Regions from separate parts of the Homo sapiens genome. Here regions 1, 2, 3, 4, 6 and 7 are each linked to region 5. Evidence: fine-mapped expression QTL. A gene starts in region 5. Each other region holds a variant in brackets. All regions are shown on one strand. Distances are from middle to middle.

The links.
Region 1: its variant is fine-mapped to the expression of PARP4 in whole blood (TOPMed, PIP above 0.99).
Region 2: its variant is fine-mapped to the expression of PARP4 in fibroblasts (GTEx, PIP above 0.99).
Region 3: its variant is fine-mapped to the expression of PARP4 in whole blood (TOPMed, PIP above 0.99).
Region 4: its variant is fine-mapped to the expression of PARP4 in whole blood (INTERVAL, PIP above 0.99).
Region 6: its variant is fine-mapped to the expression of PARP4 in whole blood (TOPMed, PIP above 0.99).
Region 7: its variant is fine-mapped to the expression of PARP4 in whole blood (INTERVAL, PIP above 0.99).

Annotation. Positions count from the first base shown.
Region 1 is chr13:24,464,032-24,468,435 of GRCh38, forward strand. The region is part of intron 17 of PARP4 (poly(ADP-ribose) polymerase family member 4); the gene reads right to left. Among named protein-coding and RNA genes, the nearest start is that of PARP4, 47 kb to the right of the region's middle. The variant A/G (reference allele first, on the strand shown) is at 1,952.
Region 2 is chr13:24,359,807-24,364,210 of GRCh38, forward strand. No RefSeq gene overlaps it. Among named protein-coding and RNA genes, the nearest start is that of LINC00566, 31 kb to the left of the region's middle. The variant A/G (reference allele first, on the strand shown) is at 1,754.
Region 3 is chr13:24,409,926-24,414,329 of GRCh38, forward strand. No RefSeq gene overlaps it. Among named protein-coding and RNA genes, the nearest start is that of LINC00566, 81 kb to the left of the region's middle. The variant T/TG (reference allele first, on the strand shown) is at 2,326.
Region 4 is chr13:24,664,171-24,668,574 of GRCh38, forward strand. No RefSeq gene overlaps it. Among named protein-coding and RNA genes, the nearest start is that of ATP12A, 14 kb to the right of the region's middle. The variant T/G (reference allele first, on the strand shown) is at 2,481.
Region 5 is chr13:24,510,185-24,514,588 of GRCh38, forward strand. PARP4 (poly(ADP-ribose) polymerase family member 4) reads right to left here and starts at 2,594. Exons shown (of 34, transcript NM_006437.4): 1 at 2,522-2,594. The region is part of intron 1 of LOC105370117 (a long non-coding RNA gene); the gene reads left to right. RefSeq lists a silencer at 2,592-2,751.
Region 6 is chr13:24,457,441-24,461,844 of GRCh38, forward strand. PARP4 (poly(ADP-ribose) polymerase family member 4) reads right to left here. Exons shown (of 34, transcript NM_006437.4): 18 at 2,532-2,696; 19 at 1,824-1,870; 20 at 1,604-1,682. Among named protein-coding and RNA genes, the nearest start is that of PARP4, 53 kb to the right of the region's middle. The variant CA/C (reference allele first, on the strand shown) is at 2,319.
Region 7 is chr13:24,418,259-24,422,662 of GRCh38, forward strand. PARP4 (poly(ADP-ribose) polymerase family member 4) reads right to left here. Exons shown (of 34, transcript NM_006437.4): 34 at 2,673-3,056. The coding sequence ends at 2,861. Among named protein-coding and RNA genes, the nearest start is that of LINC00566, 89 kb to the left of the region's middle. RefSeq lists an enhancer at 1,355-1,860. The variant C/T (reference allele first, on the strand shown) is at 1,741.

The DNA of each region.
Region 1 (4,404 bases), 46 kb before region 5:
GAACTCCCATTCACAATTGCTACAAAGAGAATAAAATACATAGGAATACAGCTAGCAAGGGAAGTGAAGGACCTCTTCAAGGAGAACTATAAACCACTGCTCAAGGAAATCAGAGAGGACACGAACAAATGGAAAAACATTCCATGCTCATGGATAGGAAGAATCAATATCGTGAAAATGCCCATACTGCCCAAAGTAATGTATAGCTTCAATGCTACTCCTATTAAACTACCATTGACATTCTTCACAGAATTAGAAAAAACTAGGTTAAAATTCATATGGAACCAAAAAAGAGCCTGTAGAGCCAAGACAATCCTAAGCAAAAAGAACAAAGCTGGAGGCATCACACTACCAGACTTCACACTATACTACAAGGCTACAGTAATCAAAACAGCATGGTACTGGTACAAAAATAGACACATAGACCAATGGAACAGAATAGAGATCTCAGAAGTAACACCACACATCTACAACTGTCTGATCTTCAACAAACCTGACAAAAACAAGCAATGGGGAAAAGATTCCCTATTTAATGAATGGTGCTGGGAAAACTGGCTAGCCATATGCAGAAAATTAAAACTGGACCCCTTCCTTAAACTTACACAAAAAATAACTCGATACGGACTAAAGACTTAAATATAAAACCAAAAACTATAAAAACTCTAGAAGAAAATCTAGGCAATACCATTCAGGACATAGGCACAGTCAAAGATTTTATGAGGAAAACATCAAAAATTGCAGCAAAAGCAAAAATTGACAAATGGGATCTAATTAAACTAAAGAGCTTCTGCACAGCAAAAGAAACTATCAGCAGAGCGACCAGACAACCTAGAGAATGAGAGAAAATTTTTGCAATCTATCCATCTGATGAAGGTCTAATATCCAGAATCTACAAGGAACTTAAACAAATTTACAAGAAAAAAAAACCCCATTAAAAAGTGGGCAAAGGACATGAACAGACACTTCTCAAAAGAAGACATTTATGTGGCAAAAAAATATGAAAAAAAGCTAAACATCACCGATCATTAGAGAAATGCAAATCAAAACCACGATGAGACACCATCTCATGCCAGTCAGAATGGCGATAGTTAAAAAATCAAGAAACAACAGATTCTGGCAAGGCTGTGGAGAAATAGGAATGCTTTTACTCTGTTGGTGGGAGTGTAAATTAGTTCAACCATTGTGGAAGACAGTGTGGGTCTTCCTCAAAGACCTAGAACCAGAAATACCATTTGACCCACCAATCCCATTACTGGGTATATACCCAAAGGAATATAAATCATTCCATTATAAAGATACATGCATGTGTATGTTCGTTGCAGCACTATTCACAATAGCAAAGACATGGAATCAATCCAAATGCCCATCAATGATAGACTGGATAAAGAAAATGTGGTACATATGTACCATGGAATACCATGCAGACCATGTCCTTTGCAGGGACATGAATGAAGCTGGAAGCCATTATCCTCACAAACTAACACAGGAACAGAAAACTGAACACAGGATGTTCTTACTTACACGTGGGAGCTGAACAATGAGAACACATGGACACAGGGAGGGAAACAACATACACTGGGGCCTGTAGCGGAGGCAGGGAGAGGGAGAGCATCAGGATAAATAGCTAATGCATGTGGGGCTTAATATCTGGGTGATGGGTTGATAGGTGCAGCAAACCACCATGGCACACATTTGCCTATGTAACAAACCTGCATGTCTTGCACATGTATCCCAGAACTTTAAAAAAAAAAAAGATAGTTGAATATATAACAACACATTGTAGAATTTATAATATATGAAGAAATAAAACACACGACAACAATATCACAAAGGATATGGGAAAAAAGAAACGAACGTATACTGGTTGTAATGTAATGTATTCTGGTTGTAAGGTTCTTACATATGAAGTAGTATAATATTGTAGGCTGTATGTGGTAAGTTACAGATGTAT[A/G]TAGTAGTAAACCCTAAAGCAGTGCTGACCAATGTAACTTTCTATGATGATAAAAATGCTCTACATATGCACTAAGTAATAAGATAGCCACTGGCCACATAAAACATTTTATTTTATATTTAAATGTAAATATACACATGTAATTAGTGGCTACCATATTTAACACATATTTAACATGTGGCTTTAGAGCAACAATCAAAACTTAATTTTTTTATTTTTTGAGACAGGGTCTCGCTTTGTTGCCCAGGCTGTGCAGTGGCGCCATTATGGCTCATTGCAGCCTCCACCTCTCAGGCTCAAGTGATCCTCCCAACTCAGCCCCTCAAGTAGCTGGGACTACAGGCATGCATCACCACACCCAGCTAATTTTTGTATTTTTTGTAGATCTGGGGTTTCACCATGTTGCCCAAGGGGTCTTGAACTCCTGGGCTCAGGTGATCCATCTATCTCAGCCTCCCAAAGTGTTAGGATTACAGGTATGAGCTACCACACCTGGCCAACAATCAAAACTTTTTAAGAGAGAGAGAACTGGCTGGGCGCAGTGGCTCACGTCTGTAATCTCAGCACTTTGGGAGGCAGAGGCAGGAGAATCACTTGAGGTTAGCGGTTTGAGACCAGCCTGGCCAACATGGTGAAACCCCATCTCTACTAAAAATACAAAAATTAGCTGGGTGTGGTGGTATGTGCCTTTAGTCCTAGCTACTTGGGAGGCTGGGGCAGGAGAATCGCTCAAACTGGGAGGCAGAGGTTAGGTTGCAGTGAGCCAAAATCACGCCACTGCACTCCAGCCTGGGCAACAGTGAGACTCTGTCTCAAAAAAAAAAAAAAAAAGATAAAATTAATAAGCCAATAATGGAGATACAATGGAATCATTTAAAAAACAATACAAGAGAAAGCAGGAAAAGCGAGGGAAAGGAACAAAGAACAAATGGTACAAATAGAAAACAACTAGCAAGAGGGTAGATATAAATCTGACCAGATCAATAATTGTATTAAATAAAAATGACCTAAACAATACAAAGTGCAGAAACTCACAGATTGGATAAAGCAGCAAAATTCAACAGTACGCTATCTAAGTAGTATAGGGTTATAGTGACAAGTCAGTCAGTCTAGATGTTTTGAAAAGGAGAAAACCATCAAATGGTCACATAAATTGAAGTCTTGGAAACACTGCCATTTAATCTGGCAATGAGGAGGACATAAGTCGTCCTAGGCTGGGCACTGTCTTCATCCTTGGTTTCGGCACCACAATTTTCTCTTTATTGTACCACTAACTATCCTTTTCTGTTACTTCCACACTTAAATATTGGGGATTACGAGCTAGACCTCTATCTTTACAAACAGTATATTAAGAGTTATAAGACAAATATGTCCAGGTTGCCATGGGAAAATGAAGCCATGGGTCTTTCCGGGGGAAGGCAGGAAAAGCTTAGATGGAGGGATTCCTAAGCTAAGACTTGTTTGTTTGTTTAGAGACAGAATCTTGCTCTGTTGCCCAGGTTGGTGTGTAGTGGTATTATCAGAGCTCACTGCAGCCTCGAACTCCTGGGCTCAAGTGATCCTCCCGCCTTGGCCTCCAAAAGTGCTGGGATTACAGGTATGAGCCACTGCACCTGGTATATATGGTATTTATATAACAATGCATGAATACCATATATTATGATATGAGAACATTATAGTCACAAGATGTCAATACATTCTGGGAGACCTGAAGGCTTGGGTTAGCAATAGTTCTGATCAGACTTTACCCATAGGTAATACCTTCTGTGAAGGCTGTTTTCTTGTGGACCCTATTCCTAGGGAAATATGTAAGTATTAAGGAGGAAACATTTACCAACACACGTAGGAGGATAACCTGATAATATTAAGTGGCAGCCTCTCAAATGAACCCCAGGCTTCTATACATACAGTTTGGCCATACATAGAGCCAGCATTCTTAACTGTTCAATAATCACCTCTTCATTACTTATTCCCATCCTGCAGGTGGATATCTTAGATGTCAAGAGCAATAATTTACCCCTTTGTCTATATTAATCTTGAATGTGCCCCTAGCCCCAGCAAACATTAAATTTTCAAAACACCATGGCCATGTGTCACCCTCAGAGGCGATACTCAAACATATGGCCCCATCTGCAAGAATAACTAAAATACCTGCACTAGAGTTAGACGCTGACTACACACAATCTAGCACCTGCCAGAGGCCTCGTGAAAACACCTGGTATTTAAGGAAAGTAGTCTAGTGGACCTGCCAGCTATTCCCTCTTCCACACTGTCCACGTCACGTCCCTGCTAAAGCTAATCACCTAAAAGCACAGGAGCTGGCCCAAGGAGGACCCGGCAGAAATGCCTCCCTGCTTTATGATTGGACCATCTGCTAGGTGAGCTTACTTCAGGAAAATTGTAAATATATCACACTCCTTTTTTTTTTTTTTTTTTTTTGAGATGGAGTTTCG
Region 2 (4,404 bases), 150 kb before region 5:
ATTATTTATCTCATAGACGGGGAAGATTTCATTTGTTTTTATAATGGAATGCTTACCAATTGACTTTAGTAAGAGCAGTTTGTTAAATCAGATTTTGAATTGGTGCATAGATTTGAAGTTCATAAGTTAGTTTTTGATGTGATATACTTAGCGCCTCCCTTCTTCCCTTAAAGTGGCTGGATTTATTCTCCCATGAGGCTGTGCGCTCATTGTTGTCCTGCATTATGGAAATTACATCGGTTCTCCGTGGTGTCTTCATGAGAGGCAATTTTACTCCTGACTTCTACCGTTTTTTTTTTTAATTTAAGAAGGGACATTAAAGAGACTCTGCTTGCTGCTTTGCGGGGACTTTTTCCTCTTGAAAACAGTCCCAGGGCTGCAAACAAATGCTTTGGTTAAATACCAGAAAGGAACTTACTAACAACTCCTTACTTGGGTCCAACCAACTGTCATTCATTAACCTGTTTGATTTTCTCAGCAATCCTGTGAAGTCAAGCGGCCGCTAGGAACCCAGCTCGTGTGTGTGCACGTTGAGGCCCCGGGCCTGGTCACCACCCATAGCTGGGTGCTGGCCTGGCAGTGGGGACCAGGCCTTTCATACCCACAAAGCAGGGCTGCCTGGGCCTGGACCCAAGCTCATCTGGCCAGCCCAGTGATGGCGACCCTGACTCAGTTTCCCTATCAACAGAACAGGGATAAGATACTGAGTACCTTGGAGAGGGTTTGAGGATGGAAGGAGGCGATGCCTGCCCAGGGCATGGAACAGAGCCAGTACCAAGAGCTTAGCTCTGGGCATTGCAACTACCCCAGTGGAATGGCTCCCGGACCCCTCCCCGAACCAGCTCCCCCTACTCCAACAGCCATACCGCCAGGCAGACAGCATCTGACCCAGAGGGCCCCACCCTCACGCCTGCTTCTCCCCAACTGTGGGGCCTCAGGTGGGCATCCCTGTGCTCCAGGTCTCAGCGTCCTCAGCTATGAAACAGGCTGCTGAGGCCTCCCTAGGGCACCCAGCATCCCTGCTGAGGGCAGAGGGGATCTTGCTGACAGGCTGCAGGAGACCACCCCAGGAGCCAGGGGTTTGCCCAGTCTCCTCTGGGGCAGCCGTCCAGGCAGAACCTCAGCCCCCAGATAGCAGGATCAGGGCGAAAACTAAGTCATCAGGACCACAGGCCTGCAGGCCATCCCTGCCCGGTTCATTCAGCAGCCTCAGTGACAGGTGCTGGGGAAGGCCCTGGTGCAGGCAGCCTTTATTTCAACTTTCCCTGGACCCCCAGCCCCTCCAGCTCCAGTCTCTGTGTTCCCATAGAGACCCCCAGGGCACAGCAGGGAGTGCTTTCCACAGCCCCAGCTGCACCGCACTTCCAGCTTGCCTCTGGAAACAGCCACAAATAGCAGGGCAGCACCAGAAGGCAGGCCTTTAAGGAGAATGAACACAGGTCTCCACCCTCAGACAAACACAGGTCTCCACCCTCAGATGAACACAGGGCTCTACCCTCAGACAAACACAGGTCTCCACCTTCAGACGAACACAGGCCTCCACCCTCAGATGAGCACAGGTCTCCACCCTCAGCACAGGTCTCCACCCTCAGGTGAACACAGTCCTCCACCCTCACATGAACACAGGCCTCCACCCTCAGAAACAGAAGCTCCACAGAGCCCCCAAGGGACCCTGGGGCACCCTGGAAGCATCCACTGCATACTGGAGCCACCTCAAGAGCCATGGGGGCTGGGAGCCCCGGGGTTCTGGGAA[A/G]GCTCTCCCCAGTGGAACATTGGAATAAATGTGCGTAGCTGTGAAAACTCCCTTTACATAAAATCAAAAAGAGAGCCTGTGTAAAACATTTCTAAATACCCAGGACCTTAAGACACAAGCCCTTCCTGCTGGGCACCTCCACAGCCGCTTCCTGCCCTTCTTGCCTCCAAGCCGGTGCAGCTCCTTCTAAAACACCTTGGTGCACCCAGGGTGCCCAGAGGAAGGCGGGAGCCCACGGGAGGCACGTGGATGGGAGTGAGCCCCTCCACCAGCTTGCTGGGAGGCAGATGGTCAGGGAAGGGGTGCCCCACCACTCTACTGCAGAAGAATCTGTTACCATGGAAGCATCCGGGGCAACGAGGAGGTGACTTTACACCCCAGGAAGTGGGGCCCTCTGCCCCAGGGATGGGTGAGCTCATTTGCCAGGAGGCCCCTTCAGACTGAGGCACCTGGGGTGGGGGGTGCAAATCCTGGTCCTGCCCCCAAGGGCCCTGGGCATGGATGCCCTCAGCAAACTCTCCCCAAGACCCAGGCACGGGGTGAGGCGGGACCTGTCCTGGAGCTCCCAGGCTGGGGCAGCAGGGAAGGACAGGGCGAGGGGCCCTGGTGTGAAAGTCCAGGTGGGAACGCCCTCAATTGCCCCCCCCGCCCCACCCAGTCCCTGACCTGAAGCTGCCTCTGGGACTGAGGAGCCTCACTCTGTCCCTGGTCCAGTGGCCCGGGCTCCCCAGCCTGTGGAGTGACAGTTGCAAGGCAAGGACAGGCAAGTGCCAGCACCCATGGCTGTGGTCCCAGTCTGGTTGCCTCAGCCTCCAGAGCCCCCAAGCCTTCACCCAGCCTTGCAGGCCCTACTGCCCACACCCGGGCTCATGGATTTGAGCCAAGCTCACCTGTCTGCCCAGTGGCTTTGGATTCAAGAGCGTCCATGGCTCCCCCTGCTCCCCAGCCTTGTCTCATAGTCCCCTGGGGTGGGCTGAAGGTCTCTGAGGGAAACCTGCTCTCACTGTGTGGAGCACAGGCCCTGGCCCACAGCAGGCCAGCAGGACTTTCTTCTTGGCTCCTCAAATGGTGCCGCGTGGGCCGTGGGCACATGTGGCTGGCGCCCAGTGTCAGTTCCTTTCATTCACTTCCCTCTAAGCACCTCCGTGGGTGAGTGGCCACCATCCTGGACACACACAAAGCCTCAGCTGGCGTGTGGCAGGCTGGGGGGAGCTCAGCCATTCCACTCAGAGGTGGTGGCCATGGCCACTGCCCCGAAGAAAAGGAAGAACTTGTTTACAAATTGTTCACTGAAAATTGAGTTGCAAACATTGGCATCAGGCCTTGCCTGCCAGGCCACCCGGATTGGAGGGTAACTTATGAAGATTGCTTTACCTGGGGGCATGCTGGTCTATGCCTGTGAGTAATTCACACCAGGCTCATTTCAGATGCAGTCAAAGACCCCCATATTTCACCACAACCATGTAATCACAGAGCCACGTTAAAAATTCATTATTGTTTAGAATCCAGCTTGGTTTGAAAAACACTTATTATAAAATTCAACGGCCTTTGTAAATTACCAAAAGGTTTACTCAAGAATCCTAGGTGCTGTGGTTTAGACCGGGAACTTACGATTTTATTGATTCTGTGGGATTTTGTCTGTCCCTGCATTTATAAGGCATGATTAGTGAGTGATGAGATAATAAACTCCTCCGTGCTGGTTCGGAAATAATGATGAGTTGAGTTTGCATCCTCAAATTTCTCATGCAAACCACTCCTGCTCCAAAGAGTCCCAGATGCAACTTTGGGTGGTTTTGCAGGCAGTGTGGCCATCATCTCCCAAGGGGAGAGAGCGCAGGGGGAACTGGCTTCTCTGCTCGCCTATTTGTGGGATCCCGGCAGACCTGCCCACCGCATCCCAGGAGAGCAGCCATGGAGCCTGATTCTGTTTCCAGGCCAGCTCGAAGCGTGCTGGGAAGCACTGGCAGAGCTCCTGCAGATGCAGATGCTCCTCTGCCTCTTTCGTGGCAGTCCAGGGACTAGATGTGTGTCTGCACAAGCCCTCATCACTTACACGTGGTTGAACAGGCAGGACTTGGTGAATTCCTTCTCAGTTTTGTCCTGAGAGGCAGACAGCGTGCCCCTGGCAGCCTTGAAATGAGGGGTCATTTGGGGATCCTGAAAGCTGAGGTTCTAGCCCAGGAAGTGCCCCAGAGCCCGGCCATCCTGACACACTGACTCTCCTTCCATGCTGGGAGACAGCAGCTCTGCCCTGCCCACCTGCCCAGAAGTGGCCAGCTGGCTTTTTGCCAGGTTCTGCCCTCTGCAGCCCCAGAGCTACACCTGTCCTTTCTTAGAAGCTGCCAATGGCCATGAGTGTCCAGGCCACTCTGGGAAGGACTGTAGTAAAATAGTCAATGTGTTTAATCCATGTTTCCCACTGGCCCACCCATGCCTTTGACCCACAGGACAGTGGCCACGCATGTGCTTGGGAAAACCACCATAACAGGTCCAGACAAGAGTGCTGGCCTGAGCATGGGTCACGCTAACGTGGGTGGCTCAATTAAGGAACAGGGATGGACTTCCTGTCCTGTCGCCCCCACACACTCCTGCTTCTTCTAGTGGCCATTTCTGTGTGAGGCTGGAGCACAGTGGAAGGTCTGTGAACCTGT
Region 3 (4,404 bases), 100 kb before region 5:
CTCAGCCTGAGCGCAGTGGCTCACACCTGTAATCCCAGCACTTTGGGAGGCAGAGGCAGGTGGATCACCTGAGGTCAGTAGTTTGAGACCAGCCTGGCCAGCATGGTGAGGTCCTATCTCTACTAAAAATACAAAAAATTAGCCGGGTGTGGTGGCATGCACCTGTTATCCCAGCTACTCAGGAGGCTGAGGCAGAGGAATCGCTTGAACCTGGGAGGCAGAGGTTGCAGTGAGCCGAGATCGCACCATTGCACTCCAGCCTGAGCAACAAGAACAAAACTCCATCTAAAAAAATAATAAAGTAAAAACCAACATCTCCACAGTCCCCCCAGCCCCCGGTAACCACCATTCTACTCTCTGCTTCTATGAATATGATTTTTTAAAATTCCACAAATAAGTGAGTCATGCAGTATTTTTCTTTCTATGCCTGGCTTATTTCACTTAGCATAATATTCTCCAGGTTCATCCATATTATCACGTGACAGGATATCCTCTAAGGCTGAATTGTATGCCTTTATTTATAGATAGCACATATTCTTTATCCATTCATCCACTGATGACATTTAGATTGACTCCATAGCTTGGGTATTATGAATAATGCTGCAGTGAACACGGGAGTGCAGATTTCATTTCCTTTGGATATATACCCAGAAGTGGACTCTCCAAATCATATGGTAGTTCTATTTTTGGTTTTTTGAGGAATCTCAGTGCTGTTTTCCACAATAACTACTAATTTACATTCACACCAACAGTGTACAAGGGGGATCCCTTTTCTCTTCATCCTCACCAACTCTTCTCTTGTCTTTTTGTTAGTGACCATCCTAACAGGTGTGAGGATATCTCTTTGTGGTTTTAATTTGCTTTTCCCTGATGATTAACGAAGTTTAGCATTTTCTCATATACCTCTTGGCCATTTGTATGTCTTCTGTTGGGAAATATCTTTTCAGGTTCTTGGCCCATTTTCCAGAGAAGTAACTTGTTCTCTTGCTATTGTGTTGTTTGATTTCCTTTTTAAAAATAATCTATTAACCTATTGTTGAATGTATGCTTTGTAGATATTTTCTCCCATTCTGTAGGTTGTCTCCTCACTCTATAAATGTTTCCTTTGCTGTGCAAAAGTGTTTTAGTTTGATAAAGTATCATTTGTCTGCTTTTTCTTTTGTTGCCTATGCTTTTCAGTCATATCCAAAAATACCTTGGCCCAGACCAATGTCAAGAAGATTTTCACCTATGTTTTCTTCTAGTAGTTTTCCTATTTCAGCTTTCACAGTTAAGCGTTTACTTTGAGTAGACTTTTGTATATTGGGTGAGATAGGTTGCAATTTCATTCTTCCGCAAGTGGATATTCAGTTTCCCCAGTACTGTTTATTGAAGAGACTGTCCTTTCCCCATCTTGGATTCTTGGCACCTTTGTACTCAGCTGAGTATAAATGCATGGACTTATTCTGGGCTTTCTATTCTGTTCCATTGGTCTAGATGTCTGTTTTTGTTCCAGTAATATTTAAGGTTGTTCTTAAACTTTGTGAGAACCTTTTAGATTAAGTGAGCCAACAGAGATGCTATTTCAAAAATTATACTGGAATTTTTGTAGTGTAATGATACAAAGAAGTTGACATTGGTGGGGTTAAAATGGGGGAAAAAGCCATTGTAAATCCAACCAATTTAAGTTCAATTAGGTTTTCTCTCATTCAGGTTTAGGCTTTAAATAATCATCTAAGCATATTTCACAAATTTTGACAAACACAAATAATTACATTTTTAGTGGGCTCTAAATCAATTTTTATATCAAATTCCAGGAAAACATAGCACTGTAAACTGACTTACATAATTCAGTAAAATCAAGTTTTAGTCTTATTGACTAGTTTCAAGTCCATTAGTTAATACACAGGTTCTGTGTTTAGCTGTATATTAGTTAATATACAGGTTCTGTGTTTAGCTCTACAGGTTGGAATATTGTGTATAAACTGGCAATTTACAATACCATAGTTAAATTAAGAATATAGAGGTTGAATCCTTTGAAATTGCCAGTTTTTAACCATCTTTTGCTTTAAAAATGGCCATTTCACATTGCCCAACCTAAAATGTTATTATTCAAGAAGTTAGCATCAGTTTTCTATTAACTAATGCTAATTCCTTGCTTGAAGGAAAACATTCATTTCAAATTTGATTTTTTTCTTTTTTGCTGAGAGGGGGTTTACATTATTCTGTGTTCACATAATATTTTGATGATTTTGTTAAAGGTTGTTTAGAGGGCTAATATTCAGCTGGTATGTACCAGAGCAGCCTCTTTTTTATGTGTTCATTCATATTAGTCTTGCTGTCTTC[T/TG]GGTTGGTTGCTGCCTGCAGGTTATCATGATGGTAAAAATATTTTATATTGATTTATAGGAGTTCTTTAAAGAATCTGAATGTCAATTTTTCTTAGTATTGCAATTATATTCTCCCCACATGTTGCCTTTTAAATTTGATTGTGATTTATTTTGTTGTACAAAAGTTTGTAAATTTTTGTTTTGTTTTGAGACATGATCTCGCTCTGTCACTCAGGCTGGAGTGCAGTGGCACGATCTCGGCTCATTGCAGCCTGAACCTCCCAGGGCTCAAGCGATCCTCCCATCTCAGCCCCTCTGAGTAAGTGGGACTACAGGCGAGCGTCACCATGCCTGGCTAATTTTTGTATTTTTTATAGAGACAGGGTCTCACTGTGTTTCCCAGACTGGTCTCGAACTCCTGGACTCAAGTACTCAAGTGATCCACCAACCTCGGCTTCCCAAAGTGCTGGGATTACAGGCATGAGCCTTCATGTCTGGAGAGAAGTTTGTAATTTTGAATGTAGTAAAATTTGTTCATCTATGTGTGTGTATGTATTTCATGCTTTTCTGTCATGTTTATGAAATTCACCCTTATACTGATGTAGTAAAGATATTCCACATTTCTTAAAAAATATTCAAGTTCCATTTTTAGTATTTGGGTCTTTAATCTAACTGGAAGTTGGGGGGGAAGTATTTTTTTTCATATGGATAGCCAATTGTCCTAACACCATCAATTGCATGCTAATTTGTTCTCCATTAATTTGTAGTCCCTCTCAGTAATATACCAAGTTCCTATAAATATTCAAAACTGTTTCTAAGTTCTCTCTACCACACTTTTGTAATTATTGTAGCTTTATAATATAGTTTGATAAAGGCAGAATTGTCTTGCTCTTCTTGGAACTTTATTATGACATTCAATTTTAAAATCATTTTGTGAAGTGCCATAATAAAACACTTGTAGGATTTTTATTGGAACTACATTGAATTTATAGATTAACTTGAGAGAACTGACAACTTTGCGATATTGAGTTGTACATGTGAACCATCTTGTTCATTCTTTAATAATATTTTATACTTTTTTATCATGTCTTTGCACATCTTTTCAAAAATTCATTCCTACACAAATTGTGACTGAAAATGGAATCTCTTTTTTTCTATTACATTTGAGTTGTTTCCAATTTTTACTGTGAGAAATAATGCTGCTTTTTTTTTTTTTTTGAGATAAAGTGTCCCTTTGTCACCCAGGCTGGAGTGCAGTGGCACCATCTCAGTTCATTGCAACCTCTGCCTCCTGGGTTCAAGCAATTCTCATGCCTGAGCCTCCTGAGTAGCTGGGATTACAGGCGTCCACCACCACACCCAGCTAATTTTGTATTTTTAGTAGAGATGAGGTTTTGCCATGTAGTCCAGGCTGGTCTCGAACTCCTGACCTCAAGTGATGCGCCTGCCTCTGCCTCCCATAGTGCTGGGATTACAGGCATGAGCCACCCGGCGCAGCCCAATAATACTGCTTTTAAAAATACACGTTTCTTGTTGCACCTGTGGCCACATTTTTGTTGAGTGTATACCTCAGACTAAAATTGTTCTGTCTTAGGGTAATGAATCTTGAACTTTACTTGATAATGTCACCTGTTTTCTAAAACAGTTGTACCAATTTTTACTCCACTGGTATTGTACACTTCAAGCATTCCATATCTTCCCCAATATTTGCAGTTCTGAGTATTTTTATTTTTAGCCTTTGGGTGTTTGTGTGATGGCATCTTATGGTGGTGATCATTTGCATTTCTATAATTACGAATAAGATTGAGGAAGTTTTCTTAAGATTATTAAGTATTTGGATATCCTTTATGTAAAGTAACTTTTTAATTTTCTTAACCATTTTTCTCCTGGATTATTCATCTTTTTTCTCCTGATTGTAGGAGTTCTTTATGTATTCTGATTTCAGTTTTGTTATTGGTCATAAATGTATTTCAAGAAAGCTTTTCTGCTCTGTGATTTGCCTTTTCTCTCTCTCAGGAGTATCTTCTGGTTAACAGAAGTTCTTAGTTGTCTTACCATCATAGGTATCATGCTTTCCCTTTATAAAGTTTGTATTTTTG
Region 4 (4,404 bases), 150 kb after region 5:
GCGGTGGCTCACGCCTGTAATCCCAGCACTTTGGGAGGCCAAGGCAGGCGATCACAAGGTCAGGAGATCGAGACCATCCTGGCTAACATGGTGAAACCCCGTCTCTACTAAAAATACAAAAAATTAGCCAGGCGCGGTGGCGGGCACCTGTAGTCCCAGCTACTCAGGAGGCTAAGGCAGGAGAATGGCGTGAACCTGGGAGGTGAAGCTTGCAGTGAGCAGAGATTGCGCCACTGCACTCCAGCCTGGGCGACAGAGCGAGACTCCATCTCAAAAAAAAAAAAAAAAATCACTCGTATGTTTGTGGTGATGCTATTGTGAATAAACCTACTTTGCTGCCAGTCATTTAAAAAGCAAAATAAATAAAATTTTAAAATAAGAAAAATCTTATAGATTATGGATATAAAGAAAGAAAATATTTTTGTACTGCTGTACAGTGTGTGTTTTAAGTGTTATTGCAAAAGAATCAAAAAGTTTTAAAAAGAGCCTGGCATGGTGGGCTTATGACTGCAATTCCAGCTACTGGGGAGGCTGAGGCTGGGGGATTGCCTGAGATGAGGAATTCAAGACCAGCCCAGGCAACACAGGGAGACTTTATCTCTTAAAAAATATAGCTGAGGTTAATTTATTGAAGAAAGAAAAATATTTTGTATCAATTTAGTGTAGCCGAAGTGTACAGCTTTATTGAGTCTACAGGAGTGTATAGTAATGTCCTAGGCCTTCACATCCACCCACCACTTACTCACTGACTCACCCAAAGCAACTTCCAGTCTTGCAAGTGTGCATTCATAGTAAGTGTGCTATGCAGGCATGCCACTTTTTATCTTTTACCCTCTATTTTTACTCTACCTTTTCTACCTTTAGATATGTTTAGATACAGAAATACTTATCATTGTGTAGTGATTACCTACAATATTTAGTACAGTAACATGTGGTACAGGTTTGTAGCCTAGGAGCAACAGGCTATACAATACAGCCTGGTATGTAGTAGGCTATAGCACCTGGGTTTGTGTGAGTACATGCTATGGTATTCGCAGGATGACAAAATTGCCCAACGATGCATTTCTCAGACTGTATCCCCACCCTTAAGTAAGGCATGACTGCAGTGATGTTCTGTCCTGGTTTCCTCCTGTGTAAACCCCCACAGCATGTCCCGCACTCACTATACGCTGCCTCCTAACTAGCATCTCTTCAGCTAGATCAGAAGCTACTTGAGAATAAAAGCCATTCTTACCACTCCTTCAGAGCCTCCAAAGTATCAAGGCCTTTGCAGGCACTGCAATTACAGTGGACCCTTGAAGAACACAGGGATCGGGGTGCCGATCCCCTGCACAGTTAAAAACCTATGTATAACTTTTGACTCTTCTAAAACTTAACTGCTAATAGCCTACGGTTGACTGGAAGCCTTACTGATAACATAAACAGTCCATTCACACATATTGTGTATGTTATACGTATTATCTGCTATATTCTCTTACAATATAGCAAGCTAGAGAAAAGAAAATGTTATTAAGAAAAATTATAAGGAAGAGAAAATACATTTATAGTACTATACTGTATTTATCAATATTGTGAATTTGCATGGTCTGTTTACAAGATGAGTTGTCTGAAATGATGGCAACTGCAGCTGCAGACCTCAGTCTATGGTACATAGCAAGCAATTCAACTGTTTCTTGTAATGTCATTATTTTTCTCTGCTTTCCAGGAGTACTTCCAGCATCACTAGTCACACTTTGTATGGGTCCTATGGTGTTAACCAAGGTATTGCACTCAACACGATGAAAAATACACAGGAATCCTGAGAGATCACCTTTTACCAATGGTAATTTGCAATTTACTAGAGAGATGAACTGCTCATGTGGAGACGATGAGCGTCACACAGCGTTTTTTTTTTTTGAGATGGAGTCTCGCTCTGTCGCCCAGGCTGGAGTGCAGTGGCTGATCTCAGTTCACTGCAAGCTCCGCCTCCCAGGTTCACGCCATTCTCCTGCCTCAGCCTCCCCAGCAGCTGGGACTACAGGCGCCCGCCACTACGCCCGGCTAATTTTTTGTATTTTTAGTAGAGACGGGGTTTCACCGTGTTAGCCAGGATGGTCTCGATCTCCTGACCTAGTGATCTGCCCACCTCTGCCTCCCAAAGTGCTGGGATTACAGGCATGAGCCACCGCGACTGGCCCCACACAGCGTTTTAAGCAGATACACACTTGAGCTCACACTTGAGCTCACCGCTAGCAATGAAATGATTACAGCATTACAGTAAGCACTGCAGCTGATTTTATGCAGTTATGATTTAACTGCATCTTTATGTTTGTTTACATTCTCCTGACTGCAAATGGTCCCGTATATTCTGTTATAAGTCTTGATAAATTTTAACTTTTTATTATAGATTTCTATATATTGTATGGGAGTAAAAGATAAAATAAACTAGTATCTACATATATTTTATGCATCAATGACATATCTAACTTTTTCTTAATTTT[T/G]TTGATATTTCTAGGCTATGCAATTCATTAGTGAGCTTTTTCTAATTGTCACAAATCTCAAAAAAATTTTCCAATATATTTATTGGAAAGAAATTCTGTATAAATGGACCCAGGCAGTTCAAACTGATGTTGTTCAAGGGCCAACTGCATACCTGCCTGAGGGGCACGTGGCAAGGGTGAGATGAAGGTCCTCCCGGGCTTCCTGGCGTGTGTGTAATACTGGGTCTCCACCGAGTTCCCAAAGCAGGCCATCTATGAAAGAACCTTCAGGCTTGAAAAGACAGAAAACGTTTCCATAATTTATTGGTTAGATTCTGTACATGCTAATGATATACTTACTGTTATTAATTATAGCTGGACTAATCAACATCTTCTTTCAGATTTAACATGAACTTACCAAAGCCAAGCTTGATTTTCCAAATCAAAAACAAAGTGGTCTTCTAGAGTGGGCACTTCTGTTTGAGAAAATGCTCTTTTGAGGGAGAGTAGGGGGCCCTAGAAGGGCTAACAATAGCAGGGAACTCTCCAAGTAGGAGGAGAAGACCATCATATACAACTTTGTGGAATGTTTCTGTCTTTATGACCATGTTGCAGGACTAAGAATTCATGGCACACAGTTGCAGAATCATTGACAAGGTAAGCTGAAACCTCAAGAAATCACCTTTTTGTGTTTCTCCCTTCTTATGCATTAATAGTCCTAGTCAAATAATCTGATTCCATGTGGCTGAGACCAAAGAGGCCAAGAAAACAAGGGTGTTTAGATCTTCCCTGTTCCCCAACCTCCAAATCTAGGTGATCCCATCAGCTGCAGATGTCTTGTCTTTGCTGATCACATCCAGTAAAGAATTGCTGAATATCCTACTTCCTTTTATTTTACAGAAGGAGTTTACATGCTGCATTTGAAAACAGAGTTCATAACCAATATGAAATTTAGCGGAAGTAACTTGACCTCATGGAATTTGTGGGAAAACTCAGAATTCAAATCACTTCCTTGCAGCCTCTCAAGTGAGTCGAAAGCAGAGCCCCTACTCCGTGCTTCTCTCGCCTGGAACTCACTGTCACTGTCTGCTGGTCCACTGCTCCCAGTCACTCCAACGTGAGGAAGCCGGCTTCAGAGCAAACCACAAGGAAATCTGGTTTATGAAAATGGAGCAGTCTCCTGATAACATCTGGCCGTTCATCACTAGCTTCTTCAGGTAAACCCCACTCTAAAAAGAAATGGATCCTACAGGTCTCCTACTGGATGCCCACAAATGGCTGAAAACTGCCATTTGATTTGATTTATTCTCTATACACTAGAAGTTCTCTATGTGGTTTGTTGGGCTAATGAGCCTAAGGAGATTGTATTAGGGTTCTCCAGAGACAAAACAAATAGGATGTCGAGAGAGAGAGAGAAAAAAGAGAGAAAGATTTGAAGGAATTGGCTCACATGATTGTGAGACTGGCAAATCCAGTCTACAGGAGAGGCTGGAGGCCCAGGCACAGTTGATGTAGCTAAAGGCCAAGGGCAGTCTGAAGGCAGAATTCCCTCCTCCTTGGGGGACCCAAATGTTTTAACTTCTTTAACTCATTGGGTAAAGCCCACCCCCATTATGGAGCAGACTCTGCTTTACTCACATCTACTGATCCAACTGCTAATCACATCTGAAAAACACCTTCACAGAGACTTCCAGATTGGTGTTTGGACAACTGGGTACCGTGAATTAGCCACATTGACACGTAAAATAAATCTTCCCAAAGATTCATGTAGAATTCCCAGAGAAGGGAAAGGTTGCATCAAAAGTGAGTGGAGTGGCTGAGCCGAGACAAGTGTGTTCACTTCTGCAGGGCATGCCTTTTTCACTGCTTGCTGAGGCTGAGGGGATGATGCTCTCGGCAGAGGAGCCAGTATCCAGTCCCTCGGAAGGGGAAGGCTCAGGGCATA
Region 5 (4,404 bases):
GGTGTTTTTAGTGGTTACATAAGCTTTGCGTTTATTTCATCCTTCCCCAAGTCATCAGATACTTGGTTACTTAAAAGTGTTCACTATTGGCCGGGCGCGGTGGCTCACACCTGTAATCCCAGCATTTTGGGAGGCCGAGGCGGGCGGATCACGAGGTCAGGAGATCGAGGCCATCCCGGCTAAAACGGTGAAACCCCGTCTCTACTAAAAATACAAAAAATTAGCCGGGCGTAGTGGCGGGTGCCTGTAGTCCCAGCTACTTGGGAGGCTGAGGCAGGGGAATGGCGTGAACCCGGGAGGCGGAGCTTGCAGTGAGCGGAGATCCCGCCACTGCACTCCAGCCTGGGCGACAGAGCGAGACTCCGTCTCAAAAAAAAAAAAAAAAAAGTGTTCACTATTAGAAATACACTTTAATTAAAATGCTTGTACATATATTTTTTTGCCACATCTCTGTCATAGTTTCCCTAGAGTTGATGGCCAGAAATGGAATTACTGAATCAAGGAGTATAAACATTTTTTAGCCTTTTAAAAATTGTGGTACAGTTTTTAAAACTGTGTGTACAGTTCAGTGGCATTAAGTACATACACATAGTTGTGAAATCAAAGTATAAACATTTTATTTTATTTGAGACAGGGTCTGGCTCTGTCTCCCAAGCTGGAGTGCAGTGGTGTGGTCACTGTCACAGCTCACTGCAACCTCGACCTCCCTCCCAGCAATCCTTTCACCCGGCCTACTTAGTAGCTGGGACCACAGGCCTGCACCACCATGCCCAGCTAATTTTGGTAGAGACAGGGTTCTTACTATGTTGCCAAGGCTGGTCACAAACTCCTGGGCTCAAGCCATCCTCCTGCCTCAGCCTCCCAGAGTGCTGGGGTTACAGGTGTGAGCTGCCACGCCCGGCCCAGAGTAAAAACATTTTAAACATAAATCTGCGGTCTGTTCTTAGCACCTGCGGCTGCGTGGGAGGTATGGAAAGGCGCACTTTGGGTTTCGTGAAATCTCAAGTCAGGTCTTGACTTCTCTCTTTCCACAGATTCATCTCTAGTCTCTGTAAAATGCCAGCCCTCTTCTGGGTTAACAGCGCCTAACCGACATGCGCCACTAGTTCTTCCTTGTTTCAAAGTGTTCTCTAAACACAGAGTTAGTTCATGTTTTCATCAGCGCTGATTACGTACATATGAGATGTGGCGGACACTGGGCTAGGGGCTGGTTATTCTCTAAGGCAAATCTGCACAGTCACTCCAGCCTGTCCCCCTTCCCAGCTTCTTCCCCAAATAACATTCACAGAGTGTCTTCCACCCAAAGACAGCAGGGAACAGCCCCGATTCCTAAGAAACCCTCAGCGCGCCTCCTCACAAACTCTTGGCTGCTCCATAAACCATTGGTGTAGGTGGAATCAAGTGGCTTCCTGCTTCACAGGTCTTCGTCTTTACCACTGGCATTTCCTCCTCTCGGAAAACCCTGAGGAGTCCCTTTCTGGGCAGTCTTGATTCTACAGCCTCCGCCTTCCGAAGTGTGTGAGTCAGCACACGCTAAGATCACTTTTGATATACAGTGGGCATTCAATAAAAGCTTGCTTACTAAAAACTCTCACGTATCCATTAAAGCCCAGGATTACAGAAAAGCCTTCTGACACTATTTGCATTTTGGACTCAAATGGCATCAGTAATGCACCTCCCTAATGGGTTTATTAAACCCTTAAACAACAAAGGTACTACTTTTATTTCACTCCTACATGATATACAGTAGCTCTACGCACACAAACAAGACCTAATGTTTACTTAATAAATGATAAAGTCAGATGTAATGAGTCTGCAACACGCACATCTCAGAGCGAACTTCCCCTTTATCATAGCACTATGCTTGGATATTGTCATATAATTGTTGTCATCCAGCAGTCCAGAATTGAAAGTGCTTGGGCTTGAATATTTAGCAGCGCCTTAGTTTTCTAGAACCTGTGATCTACCAACTCGATCCCTGGGTGAACCATTCGGCCCTCCTAGCAGGAATTACTTAACTGAGTTAGAGGTTTTCAACTTTGGACCTCAACAAACACATTGTTTCTATCACGGTGTTCCCAATGACTCACGAGGTCAGATAGTACTTCCTGATTACTCACCAAACCACCTTACTTTTTGCACAATTCGAAACCTAACTTTAGGAAAGAAGGCCGTTTGGCATACTGGAAACAAGAAACAACGCGTGCTACTGCGAACCGCACCGCACGGGGTGCGGAGACTTGGTGTGACTGTCGGCTCCGGTGGGCGCCCCCCACCGCACCCGGTTTCTCGTCACCAGGGCTGCGCCGCGGGGCAGAGCGGAACGACCGCAATATCCCTCCCCGAGGGCGCTGGCTGCACTAGCTAGTCCACTCCCGAGCCTAGCAGCGCCGTCAGGCCCACAGCGCCAACGCCGCGCAGGGCAAGGGTGCAGCCACTGGCGGGAAAGTAGTACGCGGGCCACTTCCTGGCTAGGACTACAGGGACCTTTGCAGCCCCCCACCCCGCAGCGCCCACGCACCTGCCTAGAGGATCCAGCTAGCTCCGGACGCTCCCCGATTCCGCGCTCCTTGCTCGCGGTACTTCCGTAATCTAGGCTCTCCCTGCCCCCGGGGCTGGGCGGGCGCCACTGCGCCGGAACCCCGCCCCGCACCAGGCGGGCGCAGCGTCCCAAGCAGGGACGATAGCCGGAACGCGCCCGGAATCGGGTCCGCCAGGTGGGGAGCGGGTCCCCGGCCTCTGGCGGGGTTTCTCTTCCAAGATCAGCCGGAGGGTTCAGGGCTTTCAGTTTCATATTTCAGGAGGGATTTTGTCAATGAGGATTAATACAAAGCTCGGCTTTGAGAGAGGTGGGTGGATGGTGCTGTCCTTTAACTGAGAAATGGAAGGGATTCACAAGGCCGGGAAAGAAGAAAATTTCGGGAAAGTTCGTGGAAACAGGAGAGTGAGATAATAAATTTACTTTAAGCCTTCCTGCGTTTGAAATTCGTGACAGTGTAACTAGTTGGAAATATATTTATCTGCCATTCAAGAGAGGCAGGGGGCTGGAGATACAGATCTGAGATTCACTGAAATGGGAATAAAGCAATGGGGAAGATTCAGATTTTTAGGATACTGAATAAAATGAGAATAGAAAGGATAGAGTAGAGAATACAGTGGAAAGGGTATGGGGTTGAATCCTGACTCCACAATTTATTACCAAGGGGGCTGGGGACAAGGTAATTTACCAAGTTTCATCATTACAACCTACTCTATAGGGTTGTCTAAGAAACAACAAGAGATTCTGGGGGAGGAGAGAGACTGATTCCTAGAGTTACCACATCGTAATGCTCAAAATGTCCAATCTTCAACAAAAAATTATGAGGCATGCAAAAAAAAAGGCGAAAAAATGGCCAATTCAAAGGAAAAAAGAAATGAACAGAAATTGTCCCTGAGCTGAGGAAGCACAGACATAGGAATTATTAGACAAATACTTCAAATAAACTGTCTTAAACATGGACAAAAAGTGAAAGGAAACATAGAAAAATAACTGAAAGAAACAACCAGGAGAACAAAGTCTCAATAAATAGAGAATATGCAATAGAAGATGTGCAAATGGTCAACAAGCATGAAAAAAAGCCCAGCATAACTAATTATCAGAAAAGTGCAAATTAAAACTGCAATGAGATACCATCTTACACCAGTCAGAATGGTTATTATTAAAAAGTCAAGGAACAACAGATGCTGGCAAGGCTTTATTGAAAAGGAAATGCTTATACACTGTCAGTGGGAATGTAAATTAGTTGAACCACTGTGGAAACCAGTTTGAAGATTTCTCAAAGTGCTGAAAACAGAACTGCTATTCAACCCAGCTATCCCATTACTGGGTACATATTCAAAACAAGAGAACTCATTCTACCAAAAAGACACATGCACTAGTATGTTCGTCACAGCACGCTTCACAATAGGAAAGACATGGAATGAACTTAGGTGCTCATCGACAATGGACTGGATAAAGAAAATGTGGTACATTTGCACCATGGAATACTACGAAGCCATAAAAAGAATGAATGGAATCATGTCCTTCACAGCAACGTGACTGCAACTGGAGGCCATTGTCGTAAGTGAATTAATGAAGGAACAGAAAACCAAATACCACATGTTCTAATTTGTAAGTGGGAGCTAAACACTGGGTACTCATGGATATAAAGATGGCAACAATAGACACTGGGGACAACTAGACAGGGAGGGAGGGGGAGGGGCAAGGGTTGAAAAACTATTGGGTACTATGCTCAGTCCCCGGGTGAGGGGCTCAGTCATACCCCAAACCTCAGCACCACGAATTATATGTAGGTAACAAGCCTGCACATGTACCCTCTGAATCTAAAATAAAAGTTGAAATTATTTAAAAAACAAATAAGGAAT
Region 6 (4,404 bases), 53 kb before region 5:
GTCCATGCAACGGGCCTGGCACTCTCTTGTTGCTACTGAGGACTCCTCCACCACTATGTAGTGGCTCACGCCTGTAATCCCAACACTTTGGGAGGCCAAGGCAGGCAGATCACCTGAGGTCAGGAGTTTGAGACCAGCCTGGCCAACATGGGAAACCCCGTCTCTACTAAAAATAGAAAATTTAGCTGGGCGTGGTGGCAGGCACCTGTAGTTCCAGCTACTCAGGAGGCTGAGGCATGAGAATCGTTTGAACCCAGGAGGTGGAGTTTGCAGTGGGCCATGATCCCACCACTGCACTCCAACCTGGGAAACAGAGTAAGACTCTGTCTCAAAAAAAAAAAAAAAAAAAAAAAAAAGAAAAAAGAAAAAAAGAAAGGCACTGCAGAAAGGCACAAGAGAGGAACTTTTTTTTAATACAATAAAATTTCTCAGAACTAAAGACCACCAGTTACATACAATGAATGAAAATCATACTGTTATGAAATTTCAGAATACCAGAGATAAAGAGAAGGTCTGAAGTTCCTGCAGAATTCTAAAAAGGAAAATAGGCTGGGTGTGGTAGCTCACACCTGTCATTCTAGCACTTCGGGAAGCCAGAGCAAAAAGGATCCCTTGAACCCAAGAGTTTGAGAAAAGCCTGGGCAACATGGTGAGACCCTGTCTCTACAATTTTTTTTTTTTTTTTTTGAGATGGAGTCTCGCTCTGACGCCCAGGCTGGAGTGCAGTGGCGCAATCTCAGCTCACTGCAAGCTCCGCCTCCTGGGTTCACGCCATTCTCCTGCCTCAGCCTCCCGAGTAGCTGGGACCACAGGTGCCCACCACCACACCCGGCTAATTTTTTGTATTTTTAGTGGAGACGAGGTTTCACCATGTTAGCCAGGATGGTCTCGATCTCCTGACCTCGTGATCCACCCACCTCAGCCTCCCAAAGTGCTGGGATTACAGGCATGAGCCACCGCACTCAGCCAAGTTTTTTTTTTTTTTAATTAGCCAGGTGTGCTGGCACAGGCCTGTAGCCCTAGCTACTCAGGAGCCTGAAGCAGGAGGGTTGTTTGATCCAAGGAGGTCAAGGATGAAGTGAGCCATGACTGCACCACTGTACTCTAGTCTGGGTGACAGAGCAAGACCCTGTCTCAAAAAATAAAACAAAACAAACAAAAAAAACTCATCATAATATTATACATTTCTTGGCTCAGTGGTAAACATCATTTACATGATAATCACTGACTATTGTGAAACAGGTCTTTTGGAATGAAGGGGAGAGGAAAAGTAGTGAGTTAGGTGGGTGGAGGGGGCAAGAGCTACACGTCCAACTTCCAAAACAGGAAGTCAAAAGATAATTTCTGAAACAGGCGAAATCAAGAAAAAGCATTAAAAATTAATATTTAAAAATTGGAGGCAAAATCAAAGAAACAGCTCAAATAGTCCAAATGATTCACTGTCTCTGGAAACTGGTCTGGGGAGAATCAGGGGCAGGAGTAGTGCTTCTTGTTAGAAGTTTTGTCAGCATTATTTCACTTTTCAACCACGTGCATACATTGCTTTGATAAGATAAAAGTAGTGTTAAAATAACAGCTCTTAAGAAATCAAAGATGCACTAACCTTTTGTTTCAGTTCATGTGTATCACTGAAAATGAATTCAATCACATACGGCATCTCAATAGACATAGTCAAAGAGAAGCTAGCAAAAATGAAGAGAAAGTTGTCTTAGTCTACGATCTTAAATTTCTATCTGAAATTATTTCAAACAATTCTAAATGGAAATTTAAACCAGAAAACCAATATCCATTGAATTGACAGGTTTTATATTTTAGGTACTAACCTTTGCTTTGTTCCTATTTCTTTTATACAAATCTTCTCTACTGTATCCTGTTAAAAGAAAAATACATTTGTATAACTAAGCATATATTAAGTTTCACAATGAGACTAAAGTGAATGTAATCTTGGCAAGGCCACAACTGTCAGCAAGACAGCTGGTTTCACTTTCAAGCAGTGAAACACAGAAAGTTTGCTCATGGAATGACAGGAACTTCTAAAATACAACTCACCATTTTGACAGAGATTTTAAACTCTACATATGTCTGTGTGTATACACACACACACACGCACACACACACACACACACATTTTATACATGTGCTGTACATACAAAGTAGGAAGTTTGGAGGGATATACCGAAGTATTAACCATTAACTCTGGGCAATGGGATAAAGGATGGTTTTAATTTTCTTATTTTGGCTTATTTGTATTCTCTATGCTTATCTAGTTCTTCATGATGAACTTGCACTACAGATATAACATTTTTTGAGTGATTAAG[CA/C]GAATAAAAATATGCTTATTGATCATATCTGTAACTTTTATTCTTTTCATTTTATACACATAATGTATCTAAATGCATGTCAGTAAAATTAACTTTATGCCTAAAAGATTATTTTACATGTTTTTCTCCCCAGGCATAAATTCCTCCACAGCCCTCCACCACTCCCCCTCCACTGCTGCCAAAATGCTTCTTCAAATCTTATGCGTACAAACCTGAAGGTTTTCATTCAAAGCCTTGTCCTGTTGCCAGGGTGCTACGGTGGCGGGCATGAAAAAGACACCAACAGTGCCCAGGATGCTGAGTTCTGTGATGTAGGTAATTTTTATAAGAACCTTAGCCTTAGGGGGTAAGTTTCCAACACTTACAGTAAAAACGTCCTGAAACAGAAACATATGACTTAGCTTCCAACTTGAAAGCATACCCATTATATGCCAGCTAACTCCACGTACTTCTTAAGCAACTTGAATGACAACCTGCCAAATTCTTCCTCAGAAAACAGTAATAAAACCTAAAAGACACATTGGTGGGGCTAACGGAGAATCCTGGAGCCATTCACCAGTGGTGGGAACAGGGTGATGTCCGTGGCAGGCAGATGGAGAGGGGCCCCCTTGGCAGCGGAACTGGGAAGAGGCACTCATGGACTCTGCCCCAGGGGGCTCTCATGTGTGAGCTCTCTGCACACGTGGGCTCTGCTGCACGGGTGGGCTCTGCTGCACGGGTGGGCTCTGCTGCATGGGTGGGCTCTGCTGCATGGGTGGGCTCTGCTGCACAGATGGCCTCCACAAAGCCCTTTCTTGAAGACCCTCCCTGACCTCCATGGCACCCAACACCACTTTTGCCAGCAGCTGTAGAACCAGGGCAGTTTTTTCTAAGCTTGGCCCTTGCTTAATTATTTTACCCTATGGTAATTTCTCATGTTATTTTTATTTTTATTTATTCATTATTTAGAGATAGGATCTTGCTCCGTCATCCAGGCTGGAGGGCAGTGGTGCAGTCACAGCTTAATGTAGCCTTGAAACCCCAGGTCTAAGCCATCCTCTTAAGTAGATGGGACTACAGGCACGCACCACCATGCCTGGCTGATTTTTAAATATTTTTGTACAGATGGGGTTGCCCAGGCTGGTCTCAAACTCCAGGCCTCAAGTGACTCTTCCACCTTCTGCTCCCAAAGTGCTGGGATTACAGGTGTGAGCTACCACACCCAGCCTATCATGTTATTTTTTTACTAAAAAGTCTTTAGCTTTCTTTTAAAGGGATGTTGATAATAGCTATATAAGGTGGCAACCCCATGACTAGCTAGGGCAGAAAAAAGAGGCTAGATACATTTTTTTCTGATAACTATGCAGAGATCCTCTCAACATCCCCAACTATGTTCACCATTCTAGTTGACCACCCCATCATGAAAATTTTGTATATTTAGATTAGGATTAATTTAGGCTTAAAGGTTAAATTATTACTTTTGACATCAAAGACATCCATTTACAGGATGGAAACAGACAATAAAGAGATGATTATTAAATACTTAATAGTGCTAGCCCTTAAAAGAAATGTATGTATAAACACCTGGGGTTCATTTGAGACACTGCCACTTAATAGAGTGGGATTGCAGTTCTGTTTCTGGGTAGGATATAGGTGGATGCAGAAAATGTCACTTCTGTTATAACACACCAGGCAATCTACAAAATCATAACTTGTTTTGAACTCATCAACCAAGCGAACTGAATTCCAAAGAGGGGACAGATGGGACACAGGATCTGTGTGAACTCCTCCCGGCTGAGAGTGGGTAAGCTTACTGGTTTAGAAGAATTGGGAGCTCCTGACCCAAGGGGAGTTTGCATTCTCTTGCAGGCGTTTCCCCATATCCCCACAGCCTTCCACTGGGCCCACTGGAAAGGCTGAGCAGGGCAGGAGACCAAGGGGAGCACCTCTCCGTGGAGCAGGTGTGTGGGAGGTGCTGGGGCCACTTCCCTGGATCCTTTCCCCACATGAAGCAAAAGCCTCCAGCTGCTGGGGGAAGGGCAGCAAACTCTCACTTCCAGAGCTGCGGGGAAGGGGCAGAAGTAAACCAGGGATCAGAAGCCTTCC
Region 7 (4,404 bases), 92 kb before region 5:
GTTGCCCAGGCTGGAGTGCAATGGCATGATCTTGGCTCAGTGCAAACTCCACCTCCCAGGTTCAAGCGATTCTCCTGCCTCAGCCTCCCAAGTAGCTGGGATTACAAGTGCTTGCCACCATGCCTGGGTAATTTTTGTATTTTTAGTAGAGATGGAGTTTCACTATGTTGGCCAGGCTGCTCTTGAACTCCTGACCTCAGGTGACCCACCCGCCTCCGCCTCCCAAAGTGCTGGGATTATAGGCGTGAGCCACTGCGCCCAGCCGTGATTTTAATTTTTTTATGAGTGTGTAGTATTCCATGGTGTATATGTACCACATTTTCTTTATCCAGTCCACCATTGATGGGCACCTAGGTTGATTCTATGTCTTTCCTATTGTCAATGGTGCTGAGAAGAGCATACAGTGCATGTGTCCTTTTGGTAGAACTTACTTTCCTTTGGATGTATACCCAGTAATGGGATTGCAATGTCAAATGGTAGTTCTATGTTTTCATATGTTTGTTGGCCACTGGTATGTCTTCTTTTGAGATGTGTACGTTTATATCTTTTGCCCATTTTTAATGGGGTTATTTGTTTTGAAGATACAATCAATTTATGATCCTGGGAGAGCAAGAAGCAAGGAGCCAGCAAGTCTGGACACATTCCAGAGGCCACGAAGGGTTTTATGCCCTGAGCCCTGGATTCCATCCAAGCCACGAGGGGTTTTATGCCCTGGGCTTAGGTTGTAGTGCGGCAGGGCAGCCTTCCACTCTTAAGTACAGAGCTTGGTGTTCCATAGGCCACAAGAGGTTTCAAACTCTGGACCCAGGACATGTTCCAAGACTCTTTATATTATGTCAGACTAGCAAGTGTTGCCTCAGCTTTTCGCCCAACAATTGGACTGATGAGATGCTCCACTGTGCCCAAGCATCATGGGTTCTTAGAACAAGGCCCTGCACGCACCAAATATGTTCCTGTCACCACAGTCCACTAGCCCTTCAACTATAAATGTGCACAGGAGTCGCCTGGGGGCCTTGCTAAATAAAATGCAGCTTCTGATTCAATAGCCTCGAACAGGACCAGAGATTCTGCCTGTCTTGATGAGCTCCTGAGTGAGGGAGACAATGCCAGTCCACAGACTCACACTTTGAGATACAGCACCTGGGCCACTGTGTTCAAATATGCTTGATAACCTGGAACACCTATTAAATATCCAAGTTGCCAGGATTTTCTTCTGGAAATCTTGATTCAGCATGTTTTGGATGGAGCCTTGGACGTTTGGGAAAACTAGAATTTCTTTCTTTCCCTTTAGACAAAAGTCAACTACTGCTGAGGCACGGGCTTAATAAATGTTGACTAAAATATCCAACTCAACGACCAATCCTGTGTAATTTTCAAACTGTGTCAGTAACTTGCTGGGTCCAACCTCCATACCCTGGCCGTGTGACGGATGAAGAAATGCACTCAGACACAGGTATCCCATGAAACAGCAGGCTAGGGGACCGGCAGCTCCCAGACACTGAGGAGGGTGCTGTAAAGAGTCAGCAGCTGTGGCCCTGACAGGCTGGGGCTCCAGGCATTTATTCAGTACAGATTTAAGGACAAAGGTCTTAAGTAAACACCACTAGAGGGTAATTAACATTGCTGACCTCCCAAGTAGACGGCAGTCACGTGCCTGCAGATTATCAAAGGTTGATCTTAGGACCACATGAGTAAACAAGCCATTTAGATAAACTCCTCTACATTCCTATGTATCTACGC[C/T]CTGAGCTTTTAAGAGAATTCAGCTGCCTTCAGCCAAATCTTTTACTGAAGCTATGCAAACCTCCTGGCCTTCCAAGAAGTTTTGTGTCTGTTTCCTACAACTTAATTTTTATAATTTCTCCCACCACCCTGACAGATCCCCTACAAAAGATCATGTTTCTTCTCAGATTGCTCAGTCCAGCTGAGCCAGCTTTCCACTGGACTCCTGAATGTGAGAAGGACACAGGCTCCCAGGACTATCCAGAAGCATCTCTCATCACCTTAAAACTCTGAAACACCGGCTGGGTGCAGAGGCTTATGCCTGTAATCCCAACACATTCAGAGGCTGAGGTGGGAGGATCGCTTGAGGTCAGAAATTCAAGACAAGCCTAGGCAGCAGAGCAAGACCCCATCTCTACAAAAAGTACACCCCAAAATTAGCTGGGTGTGGTGGCACATGCCTGTAGTCTCAATTAATTGGGAGGCTGAGGCAGGACTATCCCTTGAGCCCAGGAGTTTGAGGCTGCAGTGAGGTATGATCGCACCACCACACTCCAGCCTGGGAGACAGATTGAGACCATCTCTAAAACAACAACAACAGGCCGGGCACAGTGGCTCACACCTGTAATCCCAGCAATTTGGGAGGCCGAGGCGGGTGGAACACCTGAGGTCAGGAGTTCGAGACCAGCCTGGGCAACCTGGTGAAATCCCATCTCTACTAAAAATATAAAAAATTAGCAGGGCATGGTGGCAGGTGCCTATAATCCTAGTTACTCGGGAGGCTGAGGCAGGAGAATTGCTTGCACCAAGGAGGCAGAGGTTGCAGTGAGCTGAGATCACGTCATTGCACTCCAGTCTGGGCAACAAGAGCAAAACTTTGTCTCAAAAAAAAAAAAAAAAAAAAAAAATACATAAAAAAATCAACAAAAAAAATGAGACACAGAAAACTGAAATATTTTAAGTTTCATTTTATTATTGCTTGTTAGTTGATTAAAGTAATTCTTCTTCCACTTAATTTTTAAAGACAGTAATTGCTACACTGAATGAAACCTTAATGAAGTTTCATTATAAGTATCTATTATCATTTGATTATTTTCTACATAGAAGCATGCAAAAAGTTTAAAATTCAGTTTCATTTGACTTAGCCTTGACTGTAATGGAGGACTCTATGAAGAGGGGACACAGTGCTTATGGGCTGGAGTCCCAGCAACTGCTTGGTGGCAGAGTCCCAGTCGTTCCCCAGTTCAAGCCGTGGGCAGATAGATGGGTACTGTCCTTCAGTTCTTCTTACCCATTCACTTGCTTGCTTTATTGCCTCAAAAGCCCAGGGAATATTCCTAGATTAAAAAAAAAAGTTTCAGATTTCAGAATATAACATGTGAAATGTAATGTGGTACTAAACCCATCACATTATATCAGACAAAATGATTCTGCCAAAAATTAAGATATTTAATAAAAGCAGTTTTCCTTGGCATCTTACGGAAGTTCTTCTGCCCGTCTGACCTTGAGCTTATGCACTGCATTGTCAAGTGCCCTGTGCCCGCCACCTCCTGGCTTCCACGTGCCTCCAGGCATCCCTGCTGCCTGCAGCACAGCTCACGTTCCAGCCGCTCTACAGTTGTTTATGGTTGTCCCCTTTCCACGCTTCTCAGTCTAAATCCTATCCATTCTTCACGCACAAACTCAAGTACTATTTCACAAATGAGGCTTCTGTTTCTCTCTCCTTCCCACTGTACTGACTTGATTAGGTACCTTCAGAATATCTGAGAGTCCCCCATGAAACTGGCATACATTCAGTTGTGTCACGTAAACCAGGAACAACTTGGTAGAATAAGCATATCGAGTCAAGTCTGTGTCCACTAAATGGTGTCAAATATTTGAGACTGTTGAATATTCAAGTCTATTCAACACTCAGAAAAATTCTGAGGTTGTTCATTAATATTAATTAGCTACTTCCTCATTTGTTCTGTCATCTGCTAGAACTTGTTAGTGAACAAGGGGCAACATATACCAAAGTTCTTCAGAAAATTCTATGGGGAAACTTAATATTTTGAAAATTCTCTCCCTGTTCCTGAATTTTCCCTGTGAACTGGGAAAGGGCCGTCAGTATAGCGTGGTGGTTAAGAGCTGGGTTTGAGTCCTGACTCTGCAATCACATGATATTGGCCATGTGATACTGTGTGGCTTTCATTCAACACTGGGAATCTCAGTTTCCTCAATTATGAGAATAACCTGAGGTCCTATGGGTTTGTGGTGGAAATCAACAAAGCTTACAAACTTAACATGCTTACTAGTCCCTAGTGCACAGTAGGCACTCAATAAATGTTCGCTGAATGTCATGATACTAAATCATGATGAACATACTAAATAAGAAGCATGCCCAAAGTGGTTAAAAGACCAATGTTTCCTAGTAAATATTCATCTACTGATAGTTACTAACTGCTGAAAACAACAAAACTGGCTTTGAATATTTTTACTGATTGGCCTCTACACTTTTTGGTTCACATTCCGCTAGCAAGAAAATCTTGTGCCTACACCCCCATATAATGTGCTCTTGCATCAATGTTATGTACATCCTGAAATAGAAAATATAGAACAAAGTTTCAAATATGCAATAAACAGGAAATAAAAAATATTTAATTTTTTTTTTTAGATGGAGTCTCACTGTGTCGCCAGGCTGGAGTG